Regions from separate parts of the Homo sapiens genome. Here regions 1 and 3 are each linked to region 2. The links come from fine-mapping of genetic effects on gene expression. A gene starts in region 2. Each other region holds a variant in brackets. All regions are shown on one strand. Distances are between the middles of the regions.

Region 1 (8,464 bases), 75 kb after region 2:
AGCCAGAGATTTAGAGAGAAATTTATAGCACTAAATGCCTGCAACAGAAAGCAGGAAATATCTAAAATCGACACCCTAACATCACAATTAAAAGAACTGAGAGGCAAGAGCAAACACATTCAAAAGCTAGCAGAAGACAAGAAATAACTAAGATCAGAGCAGAACTAAAGGAGACAGAGACACAAAAGGCCCTTCAAAAAATCAATGAATCCAGGAGCTGGTTTTTTGAAAAGATCAACAAAATAGACAGACTGGTAGCCACACTAATAAAGGAGAAAAGAGAGAAGAATCAAATAGACACAATAAAACATGATAAAGTGGATATCACCACTGATCCCACAGAAATACAAACTACCATCAGAGAATACTAGAAACACCTCTACGCAAATAAACTAAAAATCTGGAAGAAATGGATAAATTCCGGGACACACACACCCTCCCAAGACTAAATCAGGAAGAAGTCCAATCCCTGAATAGACCAATAACAAGTTCTGAAACTGAGGCAATAATTAATAGCCTACCAGCCAAAAAAAGCTCAGGACCAGACAGATTCACAGCCGAATTCTACCAGAGGTACAAAAGCGAGCTGCTACCATTCCTTTTGAAACTATTCCCAACAATAGAAAAGGAGGGACTCCTTCCTAACTCATTTTATAAGGCCAGCGTCAATACCTGATACCAAAACCTGGCAGAAACACAAAAAAAGAAAATTTCAGGCCAATATCCCTGATGAACATCGATGCGAAAATTCTCAATAAAATACTGGCAAACTGAATCCAGCAGCATATCAAAAAGCTTATCTGCCCTGATCAAGTTGGCTTCATCACTGGGGTGCAAGGCTGTTTCAACACATGGAAATCAATAAATGTAATCCATCACATAAACAGGACCAATGACAAAACCCACATGATTCTCTCAATATATGCAGAAAAGGCCTTTGACAAAATTCAACAGCCCTTCATGCTAAAAACTCCCAATAAACTAGGTATTGATGGGAGGTATCTCAAAATAATAAGAGCTGTTTATGACAAACCCACGGCCAATATCATACAGAATGGGCAAAAGCTGGAAGCATTCCCTTTGAATACTGGCACAAGACAAGGATGCCCTTTCTTACCAATCCTATTCAACATAGTATTGGAAGTTCTGGCCGGGGCAATCAGGTAAAAGAATGAAATAAAGGTCATTCAAATAGGAAGAGAGGAAGTCAAATTGTCTCTGTTTGCAGATGACATGATTGTATATTTAGAAAATCCCATCGTCTCAGCCCAAAATCTCCTTAAGCTGGTAAGTTATTTCAGCAGTCTCAGGATACAAAATCAATGTGCAAAAATCACAAGCATTCCTATCCACCAATAATAGACAAACAGAGAGCCAAATCATGAGTGAACTCCCATTCACAATTGCTACAAAGAAAATAAAATACCTAGGAATCCAACTTACAAGGGATGTGAAGGACCTCTTCAAGGAGAACTATAAACCACTGCTCAAGGAAATAAGAGAGGACACAAACAAATGAAAAACATTCCATGCTCATGGATAGAAGAATCAATATTGTGAAAATGGCCATATTGCCCAAAGTAATTTATAGATTCAATGCTGTCCCCATCAAGCTACCACTTTCTTCACAGAATTAGAAAAAAACTACTTTAAATTTCATATGGAACCAAAAAAAGGTCCCATATAGCCAAGACAACCCTAAGCAGAAAGAACAAAGCTGGAGGCATCACACTACCTGACTTCAAACTATGCTACAAGGCTACAGTAACTAAAACAGTATGGTACTGGTACCAAAACAGATATATAGAACAGTGGAACAGAACAGAGGCCTCAGAAATAATGCCACACATCTACAACCATGTGATCTTTGACAAACCTGAGAAAAACAAGCAATGGGGAAAGGATTCCCTGTTTAATAAATGGTGTTGGGAAAACTGGCTAGTCATATGCAGAAAACTGAAACTGGACCCCTTCCTTACACCTTATACGAAAATTAACTCAAGATGGATTGAAGACTTAAACGTCAGACCTAAAACCATAAAAACCCTAGAACAAAACCTAGGCAATACCATTCAGGACATAGGCATGGGCAAGGACTTGGTAACTAAAACACTAAAAGCAATGGCAACAAAAGCCAAAATTGACAAATGGGATCTAATTAAACTAAAGAACTTCTGCACAGCAAAAGAAACTATCATCAGAGTGAACAGGCAGCTTACAGAATGGGAGAAGATTTTTGCAATCTAGCCATCTGACAAAGCGCTAGTATCCAGAATCTACAAAGAACTTAAACAAATTTACAAGAAAATATAAACAACCCCATCAAAAAGTGGGTGAAGGATATGAATAGACACTTCTCAAAAGAAGACATTGATGCAGCCAACAAACATATGAAAAAAAGCTCATCATCATGGGTCATTAGAGAAATGCAAATCAAAACCACAATGAGATACCATCTCATGCCAGTTAGAATGGCAATCATTAAAAAGTCAGGAAACAACAGATGCTGGCGAGGCTGTGGAGAAATAGGAACGCTTTTACACTGTTGGTGGTAGTGTACATTAGTTCAACCATTGTGGAAGACAGTGTGGTGATTCCTCAAGGATCTACAACCAGAAATACAATTTGACCCAGCAATCAATCCCATTACTGGGTATATATCCAAAGGATTATATATCATTCTACTATAAAGACACATGCACATGTATGTTTATTGCAGCACTGTTCACAATAGCAAAGACTTGGAACCAACTCAAATGCCCATAAATGATAGACTAGATAAAGAAAATGTGGCACATATACACCATGGAATACTATGCAGCCATAAAAAAGGATGAGTTCATGTCCTTTGCAGGGACATGGATGAAGCTGGAAACCATCATTCTTAGCAAACTAACACAGGAACAGAAAACCAAACACCACAAGTTCTCACTCATAAGTGGGCGTTGAACGATGAGAACACATGGACATAGGGAGGGGAACAACACACACTGGGGCCTGTCGGGGGGGTGAGGGTCTGGGGGAGGGATAGCATTAGGAGAAATACCTAATGTAGATGACGGGTTGATGGGTGCAGCAAACCACCATGGCAAGTGAATACCTATGTAACAAACCTGTATGTTCTACACTTGTATCTCAGAACTTAAAGTACAATGAAACAAAAGAAAACAAAACAAAAAACAAACAAATTAAAAAAAAACAGTGAACTGGACTGGAAAAAAAAATCCTTGGTTTTGGCTGGAAGGCCATAGGGGCTTTCTTCTTTCCCACTTCCCTGAGAGGCAGCAGCAGGTCAGAAGGCCTTCAGCTGAGGTCAACACTGTTCTCAGCGTCCTCCCTATGTAGACTTTGACCCTTGATATGCATATGTCCTAGCACTGTTTCTAAACCCAAAGGTCCCTTGATAATGTTTATCATTACTCAGAAATTAAGTGCTTTCTACTCTTTCTCACACTAATGCATACAGGGCAAGGTGTGGGGTACAGTGTTTCGTCTCTTGGAGTGCTCTTGCTGCATGTCCAAGTCCTGTGGAATCATTATGGAGGCTGGGAATCCTGTGTACGGTTACTTCTTTGCTTGTAGGTTACTCTCACTAACAAACTTTGCTGCTATTAGCACCATGTGTGTTAGTGGTTTGTGTAACCATCTTGTACTACAGTTGGTGCCCAACAAAGTCCCGATGTCATGGCTTTCTGAAAGAGGAGAACCCATGGGTCAAAGAATTTCTCCTGGGGACAGTGGTAATTCACTTGGCAGTTAGGATGGTCTCAGTAGCTACGCCTGAGAATGGCAGAAGCCCTCAAGTGGTAAAGAGGGTTTCCAGTGGCTTGAAATTAAGTTCTATCTCTTCTCCTTATCAGCTTAGAGATTTTCAGGAGTACAAATTGGTAGGGTGCACTAGAAAGGGTGTGGTAGTCTCTCTAGAAGGGAAGGTGGGGCAAATTCCCACTGTTTATCTGTAATATGAGGCAACTGGTCCTGCTGTATGTGAAGCCAGTTACTGTGAGGCACGGTGTACAGGAGCCTGAGTGAGAACACCAGCAGGAGGAGATCCAGCATTATACAGAGCAAGAGCAAGACTCTTATTAGCTCCACTACTGTAGGGATAGTAGAGGCTTGGCCTGCTAATTTGCATGGTTAGGAGACAACAGTGTTGTTAAGGGAAGCTGAGTAAAAGGAAACACATGACCTGGTTAAACAATGAGCAGTCTGGGTTGA[C/T]TAATAACACTGGGGCTGATGTTGTAACCCTGCTTCTAAACTGGATGCTTGGTAGCATGGGTAATACGTATTACCATTGGGGTGATTTTCCTGCCACTTGAATGTGAAATGGACTAGATCCACAGATAGTGTAGTTACTCTAACACACTCTGAGACAACTGGCTGTGTTAGCGTAATTATAAGAAAATCCAGGGTTTGAGTAGAGAATCCCTGACAACATGCTCTTGGTGCAGAGAATGTTGGATGACCGAATCAGAGCAGGTCCTCCTAAGTGGACAACTGCTTTGACTTATTCCTTCATCTGGGAGGCAATGTTGGACATGAAATAGTTCTTTTTAGGTCATACAAGCCCCACAGCAGAGGCGGAAATGGAAAGAGACAGGGTCTCATGAGATGCACAGGTTTCTGCCCAAAATATAAAGAAAGAAGGAACAAAAGAAGGAGTAGACCGATAGGCTGAACTCAGGCAATCTCCCTCACACCAATAAATGTGATATTGCTCATAAACAGAAGGAATGATAAGACAGAAATTGAGAGACGGCCTAATTCTTGAGTGTGGGAATGTAGTCCTATTCAAAAAGTTAAAAGACCCACTGAGACTGTGGAAAAGGGACATGTGAGATGAAACATGATACTGAATAGTTTACAGACTTGAATAATTATTGGGAGAGGTGGAGTCACCAGAAGATTAGGTGAAGAAGGTCCCTGGGGAGGACGAGGGCTATTGAGCTTCATCCACACAAACTGATAAGATCTAAAGGACATAGAGACAGGGAGATACTCTGCATTATCTTGACTCTGGAAGTGGCATTGCTGGTGGGAATGCTCCTAGTCATCAGCTCCACTTTGTGAGTTTGAGTCAACTCTAGAAGCCAAGCTTCTTTGTTCCTAATCTGAGCCCTTTCAAACTCAAGGAGAAATACAGGTGGGCTCAGTCCCCTTTACTCTCTTCCAAGGGATCCCTAACCATGTACCCCAGATGATTATGCTGGAAAAGAGAAGAGCCTCCAATATTTACGGGTTTGCTAGAAATGGAGGACCAAGTATCATAGCTCCAGACTGCAGAAGAGCTCTGGTAAACAAGTTCCTCAACTGGGGTTTGGAGTCCATGTTACCTATGGCTGAAAGATTAGAATTACAATCACTGCAACGGCTTTTGGACCTTTTGCGTGAATTCTAGTTGTTTCTTTATCAGGGTGGGGTAATTAAGTCCACATGTCAGTTGGACTTTTTTTCTTTTCGAGACAGGGTCTTGCTCTGTCCCCAAGGCTGAAGTGCTGTGATGCGATCGTGGCTCACTGCAGCCTCGAACTCCTGTGCTTAATTGATTCTGCCACCTTAAACTCCTAAGTAGCTGGAAGTATACCTGGCTAATTTTTCTGTAGAGATGGGGTTCCACCATGTTACCCAGGCTGGTCTTGAACTCCTGGGCTCAACTAATCCTCCCACCTCAGCTTCCCAAAGTGCTGGGATTACAGGTATAAGCCACCATGCCTAGCCCTTAGTTAGACATTTTTTGTGACTTCTGTTAGTAGCTTCTATAACTGTTGGCCAGGTATGTTGCCAAAACCCACCTGTACTTACAAGGTCGGCAGATGTTGTGTGACACTATACTTACAAGGTCGGCAGACGTTGTGTGACAGTGTTGCACACCTAGAGGTGAAACAGGTTGCATTTCTTATACAAGAACAGACTCAGGCAGGGGTACTGCACAACACCATTTCACAATTTAACAACCCCGTTTGCCTAACTCTGTTTGACACTAGTACTGCAAGTGATCTATGACTGGTCTCAGGCAGAGACTCTGATGGCATGTGTTAGTTTTTGGGTGTTTGATCTCCTCTAGCTAATGAATGGTATACACCTTTGGGGTTACTGTGTCTCCTGCATTTGCAGATAACATACATATTATCAAGACTTAGGTATATTATTATATATTGGGGTTTCTAGATATGATACAATTAAGCAATGAAAGTGCTTTCACAGCTGCTGGCATTCTACAATGGGACCATGTAGAATGGTATTGCCAACATGGTACTAAGTGGCTGTTCTAGGCTCGTTCTTAACCACGGGCAGTATAGAATGCTGGAATAGCATTCTGAAAGACAGCTGTACCCATCCTTTTAACAATGACTTCTATAAGATTGTCTGGTCCGGGTGACCTCTGCTGTTTATACTCATAAAGGTCCCTCCACTTTGGTGAAGTTCCTTGGCACCTGGGAGTCAAAAAGCAGAAACAGACGAAGAATCTACTTGGTATGCCAAGACCTGAGTTTTTACACCTCAATAGTTATTTCCTTTTGTTGTACCTGTCATAATTTCAACAGGTGGCTGGGAGGTTTGTGTGTTCATATTACAGACAAATGGATGGATACAAACTTGGATGCTCTCCTGACTTCCTGATGACACTGCTAGCTACACCTACAGAAGGGCAATTTTGATTCTCTCTTTATTCCAAACATTCTAAATTTCTGTTGTATGCTTATTCTGCAAGTGGGAGATTTTGCTGCAGTCTCTATACCCATATAGTATACTCTATCCACAGAGTTTCTCTGGTGAGAAAGTGCAACTCCTGCTTTCATGTGGAACTTACTGTTGCAGAAAGAAAGAACAGACCACATAGGTTGTCCTTAAAGATAATGATGGACTGTGCTTGGGCATAAACGTGCCTGACCAAAAAAAGTGAAAGTGTGGTTGGAGCATGAATAACTCTCTCTTCACCTTTCTTGCAGATATTAACAGACTGTACCAAATAATCCTCTGCAGCGATCCCACACAATGACAGTGCAAAGCTATCACAATGTGGGATTTGTTATGCTTAACATACTCAACTGTGGAGGACCTTCTGGAAATTCTACTCCCAGATAACACCATGGGAATTACTCCTACCTGGTATTAACCAGAGTTCTCATTTGCCCTGGCCCTCCATTAACTCTTCCCTTACTAGTCATGCTGTGTAAAACTCTACTCAACTTCTCAGGTGCAGAAAACACCTACTCTTACATCTCGGCTCCCAGTGGATCCATGCCCCACATTAGGAGAACCCCAAAGCAGCATAAAACTCTCAACCAAATACTTCCACTTCAGACCTGCAGTTGAGTCTAATAGCATGCCGACAGTGTGTTAACCCCAGAAAAACATAAATGCCAAGTGGATATAAAATGTAGCATTAAACCTCTGTAATCCAGTGGAACCTGTCGTCTTATGTGAAAGGCATGCTTACCCTGCCTCCCACCTGTAAATAACACTGCACATTTTGGAAGTACTATGAGACCTTTAATAGTGACTCAAAATCTAAGACACTGGTCACTTTTCCAGCTGTGGTCTCCAGGGCTAGCATTAGAGCCTATCTGCAGGTGTCAAGGATACAAGCTTTCATTACTTTGTACAAGGGCTCTTGCCTTGAATAGTCACCTACGAAGCTGAGGATATGACCAGCAATTGCTATCATGGGAAACGCTGCCATTGAGAAAGCCTGGGATCATATCACTGAAATTAGTATTGCTTCCTTGACATGAGTAATATTAGAGAATTGCATAGCTTTGGACTTTTTGTTGGATATGCAGCCAGATTGCTCATGGGAGCTCTGTATCTCCTAATGCTGTGGTATATTGTTTGTTTTAGAATTTCTCTGGCTATATGACTCTTTCAGCACTGTCAACAAACACTGAAGGCACCATTTAAAATCTAATTGCTTTCTATTGCAGATGGGGACGCATATATCTAGTGAGCCACACCAAGGGTCAGGGGGTGGACTGAGAAGGAATAAACCCTCAGTCTTAGCTAAATGGGCATGGGGGCTCTCTTCCTTCTCTTGTTCCCAAGACCCATCAGCAAACCTGCTTAGCCACCGAGCTGATGTGCAGAGGAACAGTAGGGTCTTTAGCTGCTGTTCTCAAAGTCCTTGGTTTGTAGATCCTGGTCCTTTGTAATGCAAACTCCCTAGTGTTGTTCCTAGGCCCAGAGGTCCTTTGAGATATATGTTGTTTCTTAGAATAATGAAGGACTTGGACTAACCTCGAAATATATAGTGGTATGAAGGCAGAGCCTTCTCTTTGAGTGATCTTGTTTCTTGTCCAGTCTCTAACTGGACAAGGCACACCCCTGTGGAACCACTGTAGGGGCTCAGAGATCCCCTGAGTGCTCTGTTACTTATCTGAAGTTATCATCACCAATAAACATTATTGTTATTAGCACTGTGTGTAATGCTTGTGGTATATATTACCTTGCCTCTTGTACAACACGA
Region 2 (8,464 bases):
AGCTGTTCCCTTCACAGGATGGAGCCAAGGCTATCTGCTCCGCCTTCAAAAAAAAAAAAAGAAAAAAAATCTAACACTGCAGCTGATCTGACAAGAGGTGGAGCTCACTCATGCCCTCACCTCCTGCTGTGCAGCCCAGTTCCTAACAGGCCATGATGGGTACCAGTCCTCGGCCCTGGGGGTTGGGGATCTATGTTTTGTTTTTGTTTTGTTTTGTTGAGACAGGATCTCCCTCTGTCATCCAAGCTTGAGTGCAGTGGCATGTTCTCAGGTCACTGCAACTCCCGCCTCGCGGGTTCAAGTGATTCTCCCACCTCAGCCTCCCAAGTAGCTGGGATTACAGGCATGTCCCACCACGCCCGGCTAATTTTTTGTATTTTTAGTAGAGACCGGGTTTCCCCATGTTGGCCAGGTCTTGAACTCCTGGCCTCAAGTGATCCGCCCACCTCAGCCTCCCAAAGTGCTGGGATAACCAGCGTGAGCCACCGTACCCGGCCAAGGGAGCTCTGTTTTAAAGGACAACCTGTTACCTGGGATAAGAACAATTTGGAGAAAAAAAAATCTATAAGACTATAACCTCTGATTCTCACAACCACCGTTGTCATACCAATAAATTTCCACAACTCCTCAAAAAGAACCTTCAAACTGTCAAATAACTTCAAACTGATTTGATGTTGAGCTTTCAAAACCTAAGGTGTTTATTTCACCTTTGAAGCCTTTCTCATAAGGAGTTCTCAAAAATACCTCACTCCAGATCTGCTCATCTCAACTCAAAAAGTATTTTCTATTCTAATAAACTATCTTAGCTGTTCCCTTCACAGGATGGAGCCAAGGCTATCTGCTCCGCCTTTAAAATCAAACTGTAGGATTTGCTCTTAAAAAAAAACAACAAAAGTCTCATTGAAAATTTATTAATAAGTGACCATGTTGAAAGCTGTCCTATCATGGTTTGTCATCCTGTCTGATAAATAGTAAAATTATACAAAAGACTTGAGGTGAGGAACCACCTCTGAATGAATCAAGGAAACCAAGAAAAGAAAACCTAAGAAAGTGTCAAAAAATGAACTTAGCCAGACCACGCTCAAGAACAAATTTACAAATTTAGAATAAAATCAAACTCATCATGGCAAACAAAATCCTATACAGTCTTATGTAATCAAAATCCTATATAATTCCCGCCTGCCCACTTCTCAGATCTCAACTCTGGCCACTGTCCCTCTCTTCTTTCCAGCCTCCTTGGCCTAACAGTCTTCCGTCTCCATAAAGCGGTTTTCTCAAGCTGAAATGTTCTTGCCTCTGCTCTTGGGATCCTATTTGTCATTTAGATCTCAATTTCAGTGTCTCTCCTCAGAGACGGTTTCCCTATTTAAAGTAGCCACTCCCTAGGCTAGCACATCACTCTATATTCTCAGCAATTACCACCAGCATCGGATATTTGTTAAATTGTCTCCTCCGACTAGGATGTAAATCCCAAAGGAGTAGGTACTTTGCCATCTTGCTCATTTCTGTATCCACACCATGTAAAACTGTCAGGCACCTAATGTACTTAAATAAATATAAGTTGAATATTTATTTTGTTCGAGCCCAACTGAGTTCCAGCCTTTAAATAATCCATATGTAATATGAAATTAGAAAATCTACCAAGACTAAATATATATACACACACAGAAACATAACTGACGGTGGAAAACTGGTGTCAAGTGAGGCAGAATCAGCTCTGAAAGGGGCAGGTATAACCTTGACTTGTAAAATTGATAATCCTTTGTCCTAGTCTTATTTACGGAAACACCTCTACCAAAGAAAAAAAAAGTCTGGGCGCGATGGTGCACACCTGTAGTCCCAGCATTTTGGGAGGCCGAGATGGGTGGAACACTTGAGCCCAAGAGTTTAAGACCAGTCTGGGCAACAAGGCAAGACCCCATCTCTCTAAAAATAAAAATAATTAGCTGGGTGTGGTGGCGAGCACCTGTAGTCCCAGCTACTCGAGAAGCTGAGGCGGGAGCATCACTTGAGCCCCGGAGGTGACGCCGGCGGTGAGCTGTGATTGCACCACTGCACTCTAGCCTGGGCAACAGAGCAGGACCCCATCAATCAATCAAACAAATATTAAGGCATAAGGAGCATGCCTTTCCCTATCTTCATCTTATCCTTTTAGGATAAGTTCAGCTTCTTTTCTTCGAACATAAACTCCAATAAAGCCTAAAAACCAAACACGAAAATTTCTGGTAGACTATCCCTGTACTGCTGTCTTGAAAACAATCAAGACCAGGTGGTGCTTTCTGGAGAGCTCGCAAATCCCAGCTGTGCAAGTGCGCACAGGTGATTTTCCAAACAAACTCCGGCTCCCAGCCCTCTGCCGCACTCAGCTCCCTTTGCAAGTTCCAGGGCATTCAGTGGGAAGTACCGAGGCCACCGTCAGCTGAACAGTTTGTTTTGAAAAAGCTCTCAGGCCTACCCAGGACCTGCCTTGGGGTAGGGGGGGCGGTGTGGGCGTTCCCTCGGGCCTCGGCTGTCACGCGAACAGTAAATTCCCGGGCACACCAGGTCAGTTGGCCAGCGTAAACACATGAATCCCATCTCATTCAAAGCAAACCCGAAAGGTGTCCAGCGCTCCCAAAATAAAGTCCGCCACTTACACCCCCCATGCACGAAAGACCAGGAATGTGCCCCCCTCTATGAGCGGCCGGGCCTCTGTGGACTGAGCGACCCCAGGCAAGAGGGAGGCCTGGGAGGCAGGGAGCTCACCCGCAAGGGGCTTCCTTCCACCCGACGCCGACACGCCCGCCCTAGCCCCGGGCCAAGGGTGCACGAACCACGCCTCGCCGCACTCAAGGTCCCGGTTGGGCCCTGCTGCGCGGTTAGAACCGGGAAATGGAGGGCTCAGACGCCCCGCGCGAGCAGGCCCAGCCGCGCTTCCCCACCTGCCGCCACCGCCGCTGAGCCGGCCCGTGGGCGCGGCCGCTCTCACCTGCAGGAGCGGGGGCGCGCGGGATCCGCCTTCAAGGTGCCCACGGGCGGTGCGGGTCACGTGCCGCGCAGGTGAGGCTGGCGGGGCGGGCGCCGGCGGAGACCCAGAGCAGAGGGAACAGGCCCCGCCCCCGAACGCCCGCGGGGACCCAGAGCGGAGGGAACAGGCCCCGCCCCCCGAACGCCCGCTGTGACCCAGAGCGGAGGGAGTAGGCCCCGCCCCGCGAAAGCCTGTGGAGACCCAGGGCGGAGGGAACAGGCCCCGCCCCCGGGACCGGCCCCTGAGGCGGCGCATGCGCGCTCTTCCGCCCGGACTGCGAGTTCCTCCCCAGCTTCTGGCTCCTAGGGTCAAGGCGATTTCAGGCTTGGAAAGGGACTTCCGTCGCAAATCTTTCTGTTTTTGCTAAAGCTGCGGTCGCAAGGCCTAGTGATCGCCTGAAACGTCGTTTTAAAGGGGCGTTGCATGGAATGTTCGGCCATCCCTGCTGAAAGTTTTTACCTCTTTCTCCAGTTCTCCACCCTGCACTGTGTACTCCGAGGCCGGTCTCCCAGATTGGCCTTCTCTATTTCGGCCACCCTGGGCGGTCCGTGACTTGGCGTCTTCTGCCCTCGCCTCCTCATTCGGGTTCCCCTAGGGGTCTCTCCCGGGCAGGCTGCCTGCCCCGGGCCCCAGCCCTGCCGTTGGGTGGGTATCCTGAGCTCACTGGAACCCCGGGCGCCTTTTCTTCAGCCTTTCCCAGTGCGTCCCACTGGCTCACGGTAGACTGGTTTCCACGTGTCATTGACTACAAAGTGGCCCTGCCAGTGCTTTTTGAGATAAAAATTATCCAGAAAAAAAAAAGTTCCTGAGCAAATTACCACTTGTTAACTAAATGCACAACATAGTGTGGGACTATGTTCAGATGAAAATCAAAGATACAGAGAGCTTTTATTTTTAATCCATGAGGAAACATTAAAAATATATCAGCCTGTGGAGACCGAAGTTACATTTGAAGAGTAATGACCTAAAATGCTCACATTTAAAGATGAAATTGAGACCGTGGGAAACTATTTGCAATGAAAAAGATTAAGGGGAAAGGGAAGATTAAAAATTAGGATTTTGTGAAGTTCTTGTTAATTTTTTAAAATTAGCGGAGTGCATCATGATTGAGACTTTGAACACCAAATTCCATTCCAAAGTATTGCCAAAACAGTATTTTTCTAAAAACAAGTTTTTGATTGTATAAATAATAGAGCTCTCTGTAGGAAACACAGAATATATAACAGGAAAATAAATAGTCAATAATTACACCCCTCAGAGATCACCCACTCAGAGATAACATTTTCTCTCAGTCTTTCAGAAAAACTAATTTTACAAAAAGTCCTGGAAACTGCCTTTTTAAACAAACTTGTGTCATGAGCTGTTCCCATGTCTAAAATTTCATTAGCTTTTTTTTCTACATAATGGTCTACATATAAACATACCATAAATTATTTAACATTTTCCCTGTTGCTGGATGGTTTCAACAATTTTGATCTTAGTGTAGATAATGCTGGATTAAATATCTTTGTACCTAAATCTTTTTCTTTTAGCCTCAATATATTACCACGTTATGTACATAAATCTTTTTCCATATTTATGAATATGTACTTAGGATAAAAATTGAAATGGAGGCCAGGTGCGGTGGCTCACGCCTGTAATCCCAGCACTTTGGGAGGCCAAGCTGGGTGGATCACCTGAGGTCAGGAGTTCAAGACCAGCCTGGCCAACGTGGTGAAACCCCATCTCTACTAAAAATAGAAAAAAATTAGCCAGGCATGGTGGCACGCACCTGTAATCCCAGCTACTCAGGAGGCTGAGACAGGAGAATCTCTTGAACCCAGGAGGCTGAGGTTGCAGTGGGCAGAGATCTCCCCATTCCACTTCCAGTCTGGGGGATAGAGTGAGACTTTGTCTCACAAAAGAAAAAAAAGGAAATGGAATCACTGGGCATAAAGGTGTAGACAGTTTTAATAAGTATTACCATACTGCTCTTCAGAGAGGTTGTACAGTTTACACTCTCAGCAATATGTAGTTGTGTTTGTCTCTCCACTTTCTTGTCAAACTTGAGGGATACCTTTTTTATCTACACTAATTTGTGTGTGGGTTTTTTTGTTTGTTTGTGAGATGGAGTCTTGCTCTGTCGCCCAGGCTGGAATGCAGTGGCAGGATCTTGGCTCATTGCAACCTCTACCTCCCAGGTTCAAGTGATTCTCGTGCCTCAGACTCCCAAGTAGCTGGGATTACAGGCGCCCGCCACCGCGCCCGGCTGACTTTATGTATTTTTAGTAGAAACAGGGTTTCACCATGTTGGCCAGGCTGGTCTCGAACTCCTGACCTCAAGTTATCCACCCGCCTCAGCCTCTATCTACACTAATTTGATAAGCCAAATTGGTTATAATATTCTTTAAGTAAAATATATAAAAGAAGCCCGTGACTACACCTGCCAGTAGTTTAGCACCATGACCTCATGTCCAGTATAGTCAGCTTTGCCTGTCCTACAGAGACAGGCAGTTTCAAAGATAGAAGCCTCATTGAGGCTGGTCTCCAGAGATCTAACTACTTTAACACTCTGTCCTGTACCAGTTCACTCTACAAATCTATAAATTCTTATAAATGTATCTTTATAAATTCTGTTTCTATAGTATATTGGCAAGATATTTTAGTTAACATCTCCCAAAGTAGTTAGACCTTTGATTTGGAATATTAAAGATTTGAATGTTTTATGCATTCCTCACCCTAATTGTGTAGCTGTGAAAATCTTATTTAAGGCTGGGTGCGGTGGCTCACACCTGTAATCACAGCACTTTGGGAGGCCAAGGTGGGCAGATCATTTGAGGTCAGGAGTTCAAGACCAGCCTGGCCAACGTGGTGAAACCCCGTCTCTACTAAAAATACAAAAATTAGCCAGGCGTGGTGGTGCACACCTATAATACCCACTACTGAGGAGGCTGAGGCAGGAGAATTTCTTGAACCCGGGAGGCAGAGGTTGCAGTGAGCCGAGATCGAGCCACTGCACTCCAACCTTGGCAACAGAGTGAGACTGTGTCTTCAAAAAAAAGAAAATCTTATTTAAGGATAAAAATCCCATTTTGTCATTAATTTCTTGTTCTGCTCCTTAAAATAATGCTACTTGAAGAATATAGAAAACAATTTTAAGTGATGTATTTAAAGAAAAACCACCTTTTCTTTTCTTTTTTTTTTGAGACGGAGCAAGCTCTGTCGCCCAGGCTGGAGTGCAGTGGTGCGATCTCGGCTCACTGCAAGCTCCACCCCTGGGTTCACGCCATTGCCCTGTCTCAGCCTCCCGAGTAGCTGGGACTGCAGGTGCCAGCCACCATGCCCGGCTAATTTTTTTATTTTTGATAGAGATGGGGTTTCACCATGTTAGCCAGGATGGTCTCGAATTCCTGACCTCATGATCTGCCCGCCTCTGCCTCCCAAAGTGCTGGGATTACAGGGGTGAGCCACCGCGGCCAACCAGAAAAACCAACTTTTCTTTTTTTTTTTTTTAATTTTATTATTATTATACTTTAAGTTTTAGGGTACATGTGCACAACGTGCAGGCTTGTTACATATGTATACATGTGCCATGTTGGTGTGCTGCACCCATTAACTCGTCATTTAGCATTAGGTATATCTCCTAATGCTATCCCTCCCCAACTTTTCAATTAAATAGTAAGCAATACATGTTGTCAAAATACAGTGGCAACGGGAACCGAATAGATGTGAAGCAATGAGTGAGCCACCAATTACTAAAATATGTGGTCCTGAGTAAACAAGAGCTTAACGGAGAGATGAGAGGCGCCTGTGAAGTTGGAAAAGGTGGGCATAAGAATGTGTGCTAACTAGACCTGAAGTCTAGGCCGGCTGAGGGGTGAGCTTTGGAAACACCCAGTTTCACAGGAAATACTCAGGCATGTATTGAGGTTGTTTTCCTTTGCAGGCAAACCCAATGTCAGAGTTTCCAGAACAGTTGGACAAGGTAGAGCTCAAGGTATAAAAACTCCCTTGAGGTGTTCAGTTTATGAAATTATATCAAGCTGAACGCATGAAATTTGCCTTTTTCTATGTGTATATTACACTGCAGAAGACGTTTTTAAAAACATCCTGGCAGATTGCCCAGAGATTATCTCATATCTGATGCAACCATCAACTCTCCACATCTGGTATGAGCCACAGTGCCACCTCCTTGTAGAGAACTCTGGGGAGCTGGAAAGCTGCAACTCTGCCTGGGAGCAAGATAACTTCTGCATCATAAAATGTTCTCTTAATTTGCTTTATCCTTTGCCACTATGTAAAATTTACACCTTCGAACTGGCCATCTTTTCATTAAACCATTCAGAGTCCCTGTGTGCCAACCCAGTAGTAAGAATTAGCAGAGTTCTTTAGAAACAACTGGAATTCCATACAGGAAAAAAGAAAGATCCAGGGGCTGCCTAACAACAAAACAGAGGGTTGGGATGAGATGGTGTATATTGGGCACAGTGAGAACTGCCTGACAGCAGAAAATATGCATATGGCTGGAAGTAAGAATACCAGAAAGAAATGTAATGACATGTATGAAACTTGGTATTTGGTACACACTAAAAAATTTTTTTGCAATTCTCACTGTGCCTTTTTCTGCCTTTATGGTACAAGAAATATTTTTTGCTTATGAAATTTTTATTTTGTTTTGTTGGTTTTGTTTTTGTTTTGTTTTCCAATTCCTGGGCTCAAGCGATCCTCCCACTTCAGCCTCCTGAGTAGCTGAGACTACAGGCGTGCAACACAAACCCCAGCTCATTTTTTGATTTTTATTTGTATAGAGACAGGGTCTCACTATGTTGCTGAGGCTGGTCTCAACTCCTGGGCCCAAGCAATCCTCCCCCCTTGGCCCCCCCACCAAAGTGCTGGGATTACAGGCATGAGCCACTCCGTGCCCAGCTTTTGTTTATGAAATTTTAAATTGCAGTTTACATTTTTTCATTTTCTTATTGTCTCATTTTCTCAAATTCTTTATTTTCAGATACTATTATTAATGTTCTTCAAGAGAATTCAAGATGTTAATGCATTTCTGAAAAAAATACTTTTGTTTCCAGATTTATGGTTTTTATTACATAAGGTAAAAATATTACAGATACGGAAAAATTAATTCATTCAACAATAATTCAATTTACAGAATTACAGATTATGTTTCCAGTTTACTGCCTATTATAGTCTGGAATACAGTATTTGATGCTACCAGTCTTTGGCATCTTGTAACATTCTGTCAATTAATTGGCCAAATAATGCTAGGTCTCCATTTTAACCTGATTATCTGGAATTAATATTTCTCCATATTTTCACTAATGACTTTCAAACTAGTTGACTGATTTTTGCCTAAAGAAAATCACGATACTTCTTTAGTTTTACTTTTTGTTTGTAACTTAAAAAGGGAAGGACAATTGTCACATTTTAAAGAATGTAATAAAATGTCATACCTGACGTAGCAAATTG
Region 3 (8,464 bases), 33 kb before region 2:
ACTGCTTAAGACCAGGAGTTTGAGACCAGCCTGGGCAACATAGCAAGACTCTTTCTCTACAAAAAAAATTTTAAAAATTAGCTGGGCATGGTGGTGCATACCTGTAGTCCCAGCTCCTCAGGAGGCTGAGGCAGGAGAATCTACAGAGCCCAAGAGGTAGAGGCTACAGTGAGCCATGTTCATGCCACTGCACTCCAGCCCGGGCAACAGAGTGAGACTCTGTCTCAAAAAAAAATTAAGAAAAAGAAAAAAATATAGGAGCAACTAATATTCTTTAAAAAGTATATTTTCCTGTCAAAAATATTCTACATGTGTGCTAATACTTACAATGCTTCTAGTATTTATAACAGAGAACACAGAAGGCCTAATTCAAAATTCCCCAGAGAAGGTTAAATTGGGCATTATCCTTCTCCAATCCTAACGTCATTTAGAAATGAAGTCAGATCATCTTGCCCTCAGGGAAGCGTTTACTAAACCACATCCCCAGAGCTCTACCGGAACCAAACATCTCCTTTTGTGATTGGGAGTTAAGAATAAGTCTTATACACTTAATTGCTGAGAAAGAAAGGACCCTTACCAGCTAAGGGCTAGTAAACCCTCGGTACCAGTATTGGGCAATATCTGGCTATTACTGACTATAATCCTGAAAAGACATCTTGATGACAAGTTAAAATCACCCAACTCTGGAAATGCTACATCACTGAGAGTTTGATGGAATCTAGACACTAATAACCATCAAATATACAAAACTAAACTAACGGATATAAAAACTCAACCCCAAAAACCTCTGACGAAACAGAAGGTAACGGGGTTCCGGAGTGAGAGCTGGGAAATGACAGCATAGAGCAGAGATGTGGGTACATGAATGAGACAGAGACCTTCCTACGTGTGCCCTTTACTCTCCCAACTTTGTCCTGTAAGTACCGATGCCACAGCAGCCCCAGCTGGAGGCCAGTTACCAAGACAGCACGAGAGCCTGGAATTGAACAAGCACAGACCACCAAGCTGGTCACTGACTCACCTCTCCCCTACCCTGACAGAGAACAACAGAACCAAATGCTGGTTTCTTACGAAGAAAGCTAAAAATCTGCTTTTTAAAAATTAAAAATTAATTTAAAAAATCAAATTTCTACATAGAATGATCAAGAGAAGACACGAAACCTATATTAAGAATGGAAAACACAGCTATAGATACATGAGGAATTTTTAAGAGGGTATGAAGAACAGGATAGAAGCAGTATAGTTTTTAAATTTCTCTGAAAAAACAGCAACCAGATAAACTCAAATTGCATGGACATTTCCAACAAAACAAGATAGCAAGATATCTTCATGAACCCTACAATATACGTGAGTGAGGACAAGCCATTAACAGCCATAAAGACCTGTGGTTGGCATCTGTGTAGAAGAAAGCAACAGGACATCTGATGGGCCTGAGCAAATGAGACCCCAGCATGTCCAACAAGTAAGCACTGGAAGGGAGAGTGGGCCAACTTCAGACAGCAGCTGACCAGGGAGGGTTATGCCCTTTCAACAGGGGGTCATTGCACAGTAACTAGATTTGAACAGCCTATTTCACTTTAATCACATATAAACAACAACAAAAAAACTGTAAATGTTCAATTACTTAACAATAAATGCAGTTACATAGGCAACAAGTGAAATCTACATAACGAATTAATAAGAACCGAAACATGAAACTTTCAAAACCCGAGGATACTAAGACAGGTGATGTATTTAAATTTCTAGTTTTAATTTTAAATTAGAAAATGATAAAAATGTCTTATGTGCTTTTATGATTTCTTGGAAAGAAGAGCAAATGGAAGAGTGAACCCTTTGAAAAAAATCTCGTTCCCAATTAGGCATCTATGGTTGATAATTATCTGAATTTCATAAATACCAACATGATATACAATAGTTCCTTAGCATTTGTCATTTTAAGTTTCTATCATTTTATCTTCTATAGCAATTCCAAACTCCAAGATACGTAGCAATCTGCCGCATTCCCAAGGCCTAGATATAAACTGAGGCCAATGAGTAGCTAGATGGAAGCTGTGTGGCTAGTTAGTAGTAGACTCAACTCGTTGCGTAATATCACATCTAAAAGTGACTTTCCTACTCTTAACCTTTCACACTTTATGCCTTTTGAATGAGATATTAAATGTTATAGTAGTAGTCACAAATTCATAGCAAATGTCTTAAGACATATCCCTCTCAACATCAAGGATCTCTTGAACCTGTACTCTGTCCAGACATTCCTTATCCAAATATAGTTCTAGATATAAGGAATTATTTCCTAACTAAAGCTGTACGTCTATTGTACCCTAGGCTTCCATTAACACAATCCTAGAAAATGACTATTATCCTTGGGTAAAGCTCCAAAGTCAAACATACTCAAGTCTGCAGAAATTTCATTTATTGTGTATTTACAAAAGACTCATTGAAAAAAGATTTGATAAACTGCTCAATTCCTTAAAAATAATTTAAATGTCAAACATAATAGATATACGACTTTGGTCTCAAACCCTCCAATGTACTTTACTGTACAATTAATCAACTTCCTCCATTTGCTGAATGTTAAACTCAGATTTATTCACATTGACATGGCAGCTGTTTTAAACAGTTATATCACAAAGGCAAACGCAGGTAAAATAGATATGCATTAAAAAAGCAAAATTCAATAGCATATATACTCATTGGTTCACCTCAACATATTTGTTTCTAGACCAAATTTAATTCTCTATTAGTGCAATTTACTATTTTGAGGTCTATTTTTCTTAAAATTCAGGACTAAAAGAAATTCATTGTAGCTTACAATACCATTTATAGAAGATTAAAGTTAGCCACTTGATCCTTTATAATGAAGGTTGCAAAAACCTTAAAATACATTAGAATGACATAAAAAATAAATGTTACAGTCAATTTTTACTACTTTATTCTAATTTGTTGAGTTTGCTAGATCTCCATATCTTAAACACAAGCCTAAGAGTCCTTATTTACTAGAGAATGTGCAACATTTTTGTCTCCATTCTTAATGGTTTTTCAAATTCACCTATTAGACCATCACAGAACTTGTTTAAACTGTATTTCAATTTTGGCTTGGGCCTGACACTTCCAAAACCCATTTCACTGAACTTTGAAGTAAAATGATTACTACTGCTAAACCTGAGACTCATCCTTCAAAAACTAATTGAATCATTAATTGATCATTAATTGAATCCTACAAGAATGTCTTATTCTTGGCCAGGCACAGTGGCTCATGCCTGTAATCCTAGCACATTGGGAGGCCGAGCTGGGAGGGTCACTTAAGGTCAGGAGTTTGAGACCAGCCTGGGCAAAGTAGTGAGACCTCATCTCTACAAATAATTTTAAAAATTAGCCAGGCATGGTGGCACATGCCTGTGGTTCCAGCTACTCACGAGGCCGAGGTAGGAGGATCACTTGAGCCTAGGAGGTTGAAGCTGCAGTGAGGCATGACCATGCCAGAGGACTCCAGCCTGGGCAACAGAGGGAGACC[C/G]TGTCTCAAACAAAAAACTAGAATGCCTTATTTACCTAGTTATAAAAATAGAATTGTATTTCTATTGTTTCTATATGCTTTTCTTATGTTTTCAAACATCCTTTGTTGAATCTGAAATTATTTCATATTGTGAAGTAATTCTACTTGATAAGGTACCCTTAAGATTAATTGTGAGAGATTAACAAGAAATTAAGATGCTAAATTTGTGAGTTTTTTTTAAAAACAAAGCCCCTACTCTATTACCTACTCTCAGAAGAAAGAGGAAGTTGAAAGGAAATGTTTTATTACAGAGAGATGCTGGGTGCAGTGGCTCATGCCCATAATCCCAACACTTTGGGAGGCCAAGGCTGGAGGACTGCTTGACCCCAGCAGTTTAAGACCAGCCTGGGCAATAGAGAGACCTCATCTCTACAAAAATTTGTAAAAATAAGCTGGGCGTGGTAGCATGTGCATGTGGTCCCAATTACTTGGGAGGCTGAGACAGGAAGACCACTTGAGCCTGGGAGGTCGAGGCTGTAGTGAGCTGTGATCGCACCACTGCACTCCAGCCTGGGCAACAGAGTGAGACCCTCCTATCTCTTCCCCCACCCTGCCACCCCCACACAAAAAGAGATAGAAAAGTGACTGTACTTGGCCAGGCACGGTGGCTCAGGTCTGTAATCCCAGCACTTTGGGAGGCTGAGGCAGGCGGATCACAAGGTCAGGAGATCAAGACCATCCTGGCTAACATGGTGAAACCCTGTCTTTACTAAAAATATAAAAAATTAGCCAGGCATGGTGGCAGGCGCCTGTAGTCCCAGCTACTCGGGAGGCTGAGGCAGAAGAATGGTGTGAACCTGGGAGGCGGAGCTTGCAGTGAACCGAGATCGCGCCACTGCACACCGGCCTGGGTGACAGAGCGAGACTCCATCTCAAAAATAAATAAATAAAATAAATTAAATTAAATTAAATAAAGAAAAGTGACTGTACTCAAGTATAGCCTGAGTATAGTACAAAACCACTTATGTGTTTTCACAAAATCATTCTGTTAACTCCTTAAAAGGCCATAGGCTTCCAAGAGATTTAAATAGGCTCACGTACTATGTTTACTATGTAAGGAAAGTAAAATACTTATAATACTATACTTTAAAATGGTTTTCTATAACAAAGATTTTTAGTTATTTCACTCTTCATTAGTAATAAATCTCAACATGAATATCTTATTTCCTGAGCTTTCTGGTTAACTAAAATTTTACTATAGCATATTAGTAATAGTGTCTGGCAATTATGTTTATTAGAGCATGATATCAAAACTTGTTTTTGGTAAAGATCTAGTACCCAGAATACATAAACAACTCTTACAAAGTCAACAATAAAAAGACAACCCAGTTTAAAAATGGGCAATGGATCTGATCAGACATTTCTCCAAAGAAGATATATAAATGGCAAATAAGCACATGAAAGATGCATGTCATTAGGTAAATGAAAATCAAAACCATAATGAAATTCCACTTCACAGCTGCTAGGATGGCCATAATCAAGAAGATGGGTCATTAGTGTAGTGCCAGAACATTAAGAAGAAACCATTAATGCAACAAAATCCAACTGCAGAGTAATTTGGTAAAAGTTGTTTTGAAGATTGCCTATCTTTCACTAAGCTTACCAATTTTCAAATCATCAGCCAGACTTTCTTTTGTAAGATTCAACAGTTCTTTTCCATCAATGTTATTCATCTTGAAAATACCAACAAGATCTTTTAAATCTTGTGCACAAAGCCATGTTGAGACATCCTCCTCTGACCAATCTTCGGTAAATTGCTTCAGCTGATGTTCTGTGCGCCTTGCTTAAAATAAACAAACAAGTAAGTGAGATAACAAAAAAGTATTTCCTTTATAAACATTCTCACTTTGAATTAAAAGTAAATGAAATTTCCTTAAATCTGTGTTTTATAGCTAGGTACAGTGGCTCATGCCTATAATCCTAGCTTCTCAAGTGGCTGAGGCAGGAGGATCACTTGAAGTCAGGAGTTCAAGACCGGCCTAAGTAACATAGGGAGACCAGTCTCAAAAAAAAAAAAAAAATTGTTTTACCACTTTAACTTGCTTTTGGATCATTTTCTTTTTCACATCAGGAAAACAATTTTTTATTATATAAAATTCATACCAGCAAAGGTATTCTATTTGCTCCATCATCTGCATATCAGCACCACTATTTAGATAATTCTGACAGTGATAAAAATAAAACTCCTAAATTATGTGCCAATGTCGCTTGATGCCAAAATAAAACCAACAAAATACAACGATAATTTCGATTTTGTCCTGAGGTTATATTTACCTGAAAAATTAGTATGGAGTATAAACAAATAACTTAGAAACCATGGGAGGAGTGGGACACATGAATGTGCACTGAAAGCATTTACCAACAGCTTTAACACAGCCCAGCCACTTCAACACTGGCTTCTGTAAAATTATTATTATTATTTTAGAGATGAGTTCTCACTCCCTTGCCCAGGCTGAAGTACAGTGGCGTGTTCTCAGCTCACTGCAGCCTCATGACCTCCTGGGCTCAGGTGATCCTTCCCACCTCAGCATCCCAAGTAGCTGGGGCCACAAGTGCACACCCCCATGTGTGGCTAATTTTTGTCTTTTTTGTAGAGATGGGGTTTCACCATGTTGCCCAAGCTAATCTCAGACTCCTGGGCTCACGCAATCCATCCACCTCGGCCTCCCAAAGTGCTGGGATTATAAGTGTGAGCCACCATGCCAGGCCAAACTATTTTTAAATGACATTAAATTTGGATGTATACTTTATATTGATAAAAGCAATGTGAATAACCTGTCAAATGATTTACTAACTTTTTTTTTTTTTTTTGAGATGGAGTTTCACTCTTGTCGCCCAGGCTGGAGTGCAATGGCACGATCTCAGGTCACTGTAACCTCCGCCTCCCAGGTTCAAGCGATTCTCCTGCCTCAGCCTCCCGAGTAGCGGGGATTATAAGCATGCACCATCATGCTGAGCTACTTTTTTGTATTTTTAGTAGAGACAGGGTTTCACCATGTTGGCCAGGCTGGTCTCGAACTTCTGACCTCAAGTGATACACCCACCTTGGCCTCCCAAAGTGCTGGGATTACAGGTGTGAGCCGCGGTGCCCAGCCCGATTTACTAACTTTCTGACCCTAATGGTGAGTGGGGTTGAAATGAGTGAAAAATGATGTCCTTACTAACCTTGGCAAAGTGTTTCCAGGTCAAATTGCCAGATGTTCACTGTTTTGTCCATTGAACCAGTAGCAAGTAAAAGGGTATTAGGTGCAAAAGCACAAGTTGTGACATACCTAGTTAATAAAAACAACTATTATGTATCTTCTGACTAATTTTTAAATTATATTAATACAAGGTGAGGTTAAGTTCAGACCTGGTGTGCTGAGTCAATGTGTGAAGTATATTCTCAGTATTCTGAAAAACAATAAAAACAGCTTTAAATTTACTCAAGTAAGAGTAAAGTTACTGATGAAGACTCATTTGACATAAATGGGTTGTATACTAAGTGGATATATTAATATTTATTAGTAACTAACATAAGTTGAAACTTTACTCAATGAATAGCAGAAACAGCATCTGTAACAGCATTCTCAGGTACTTACTTCACTTTTTGTCAATTATCGGCATTATTGTCTGCTAGCCACCTCCTTAGAAATTTTTAGTACAGTAGACCCTTGGCATTTGCTCATCTGTTTGAACCTACTAATAGTAACCTAAACATCTATTACCTGAAATAATTCATATTTTTGACTATGGCATTTGACTTGTATACATTGCAGGACCAGTGAGTAGAAATTAGTCCCTTGGCCGGGTGCAGTGGCTCACACCTATAATCCCAGCATGTCGGGAGGCCGAGGCAGGTGGATCACTTGAGCTCAGGAGTTTGAGACCAGCCTGGCCAACACGGTGAAACCCCATCCCTATTAAAAATATAAAATATTAGCTGGCATGGTGGCACGTGCCTGTAGTCCCAGCTACTTGGGAGGCTAAGGCAGGAGAATTGCTTGAACCCGGGAGGCAGAGGTTGCAGTGAGCCAAGATCGCACCACTGCACTACGGCCTGGGCAAAGGAGCAAGAGTCTGTCTCAAAAAAACAAATAAATAAATTAGTCCCTTAGAGTACACTAAGGTGTCCATCTAACATTTTAGGTGTATTTAAGTGGGACTCATACATATTTTACAGAGACAATTTAGTGTTATAATTGTTTTTGAGAATGTAAAATCTCATGAAACGTTCATGAGAAATATTAAAGATTTACCTCACCTAGCTTGAGTATTCTTTCCCATTTCCTGCCAGAACACTCAGTGACTCGAACTTCTGTGTGGAAGACTAGCTTACATCACTTGCTTAACTCGCTACCCTTTGATTACTTATATCTCCATTTATTTGCTGGCATAGCTACAGCATTAGGAGGCTCCACTCAACATTTTCTTCTTTTGGACAATATTTTTTTCAACTACTTTATTTTTGAGACAGGGTCTCACTCTGTTGCCCAGGCTGGAGTGCAGTGGCACAATCTCGGCTCACTGCAACCTCCACCTCCGGGGTTCAAGCCATCCTCTTGCCTCAGACTCCCAAGTAGCTGGGACTACAGGGACGCGCCACCACGGTCAGCTAAGTTTTTGTATTTTTGGTAGAGATGAGGTTTCACCATGTTGGCCAGGCTGGTCTTAAACTCCTGGACTCAAGCCATCTGCCTGCTTCAGCCTTCTGACATGCTGGGATTACAGGTGTGAGCCACTGCACCCGGCCACAACTTGGTCTTTACCCACACATGGATCAGTAAAAAACTCCCATTTTCCAAGTCCATGATAACCTATCCTTTCTTATGCCTCTCCCTAAATCCAGCCAGGACTCTAAGAATGGTAGGTCACTTTCAACCATATTCACCAAAAACCCTAGGGTAAACATTCATCCTTTGCTATTATGGA

Evidence for each region.
Region 1: its variant is fine-mapped to the expression of WDSUB1 in whole blood (TOPMed, PIP above 0.99).
Region 3: its variant is fine-mapped to the expression of WDSUB1 in whole blood (TOPMed, PIP above 0.99). The same link has a PIP of 0.9 or more in blood mononuclear cells, monocytes, monocytes after LPS, nasal epithelium, nucleus accumbens and sun-exposed skin.

The regions. Positions count from the first base shown.
Region 1 is chr2:159,358,952-159,367,415 of GRCh38, forward strand. All of the region lies in intron 27 of BAZ2B (bromodomain adjacent to zinc finger domain 2B), which reads right to left. Among named protein-coding and RNA genes, the nearest start is that of WDSUB1, 76 kb to the left of the region's middle. The variant C/T (reference allele first, on the strand shown) is at 4,219.
Region 2 is chr2:159,283,615-159,292,078 of GRCh38, forward strand. It overlaps WDSUB1 (WD repeat, sterile alpha motif and U-box domain containing 1), which reads right to left and starts at 3,089. Exons shown (of 11, transcript NM_001128212.3): 1 at 2,969-3,089. RefSeq lists silencers at 2,923-3,362, 3,049-3,218.
Region 3 is chr2:159,251,040-159,259,503 of GRCh38, forward strand. It overlaps WDSUB1 (WD repeat, sterile alpha motif and U-box domain containing 1), which reads right to left. Exons shown (of 11, transcript NM_001128212.3): 7 at 6,906-6,946; 8 at 6,719-6,825; 9 at 5,157-5,336. Among named protein-coding and RNA genes, the nearest start is that of WDSUB1, 31 kb to the right of the region's middle. RefSeq lists a silencer at 6,059-6,227. The variant C/G (reference allele first, on the strand shown) is at 3,515.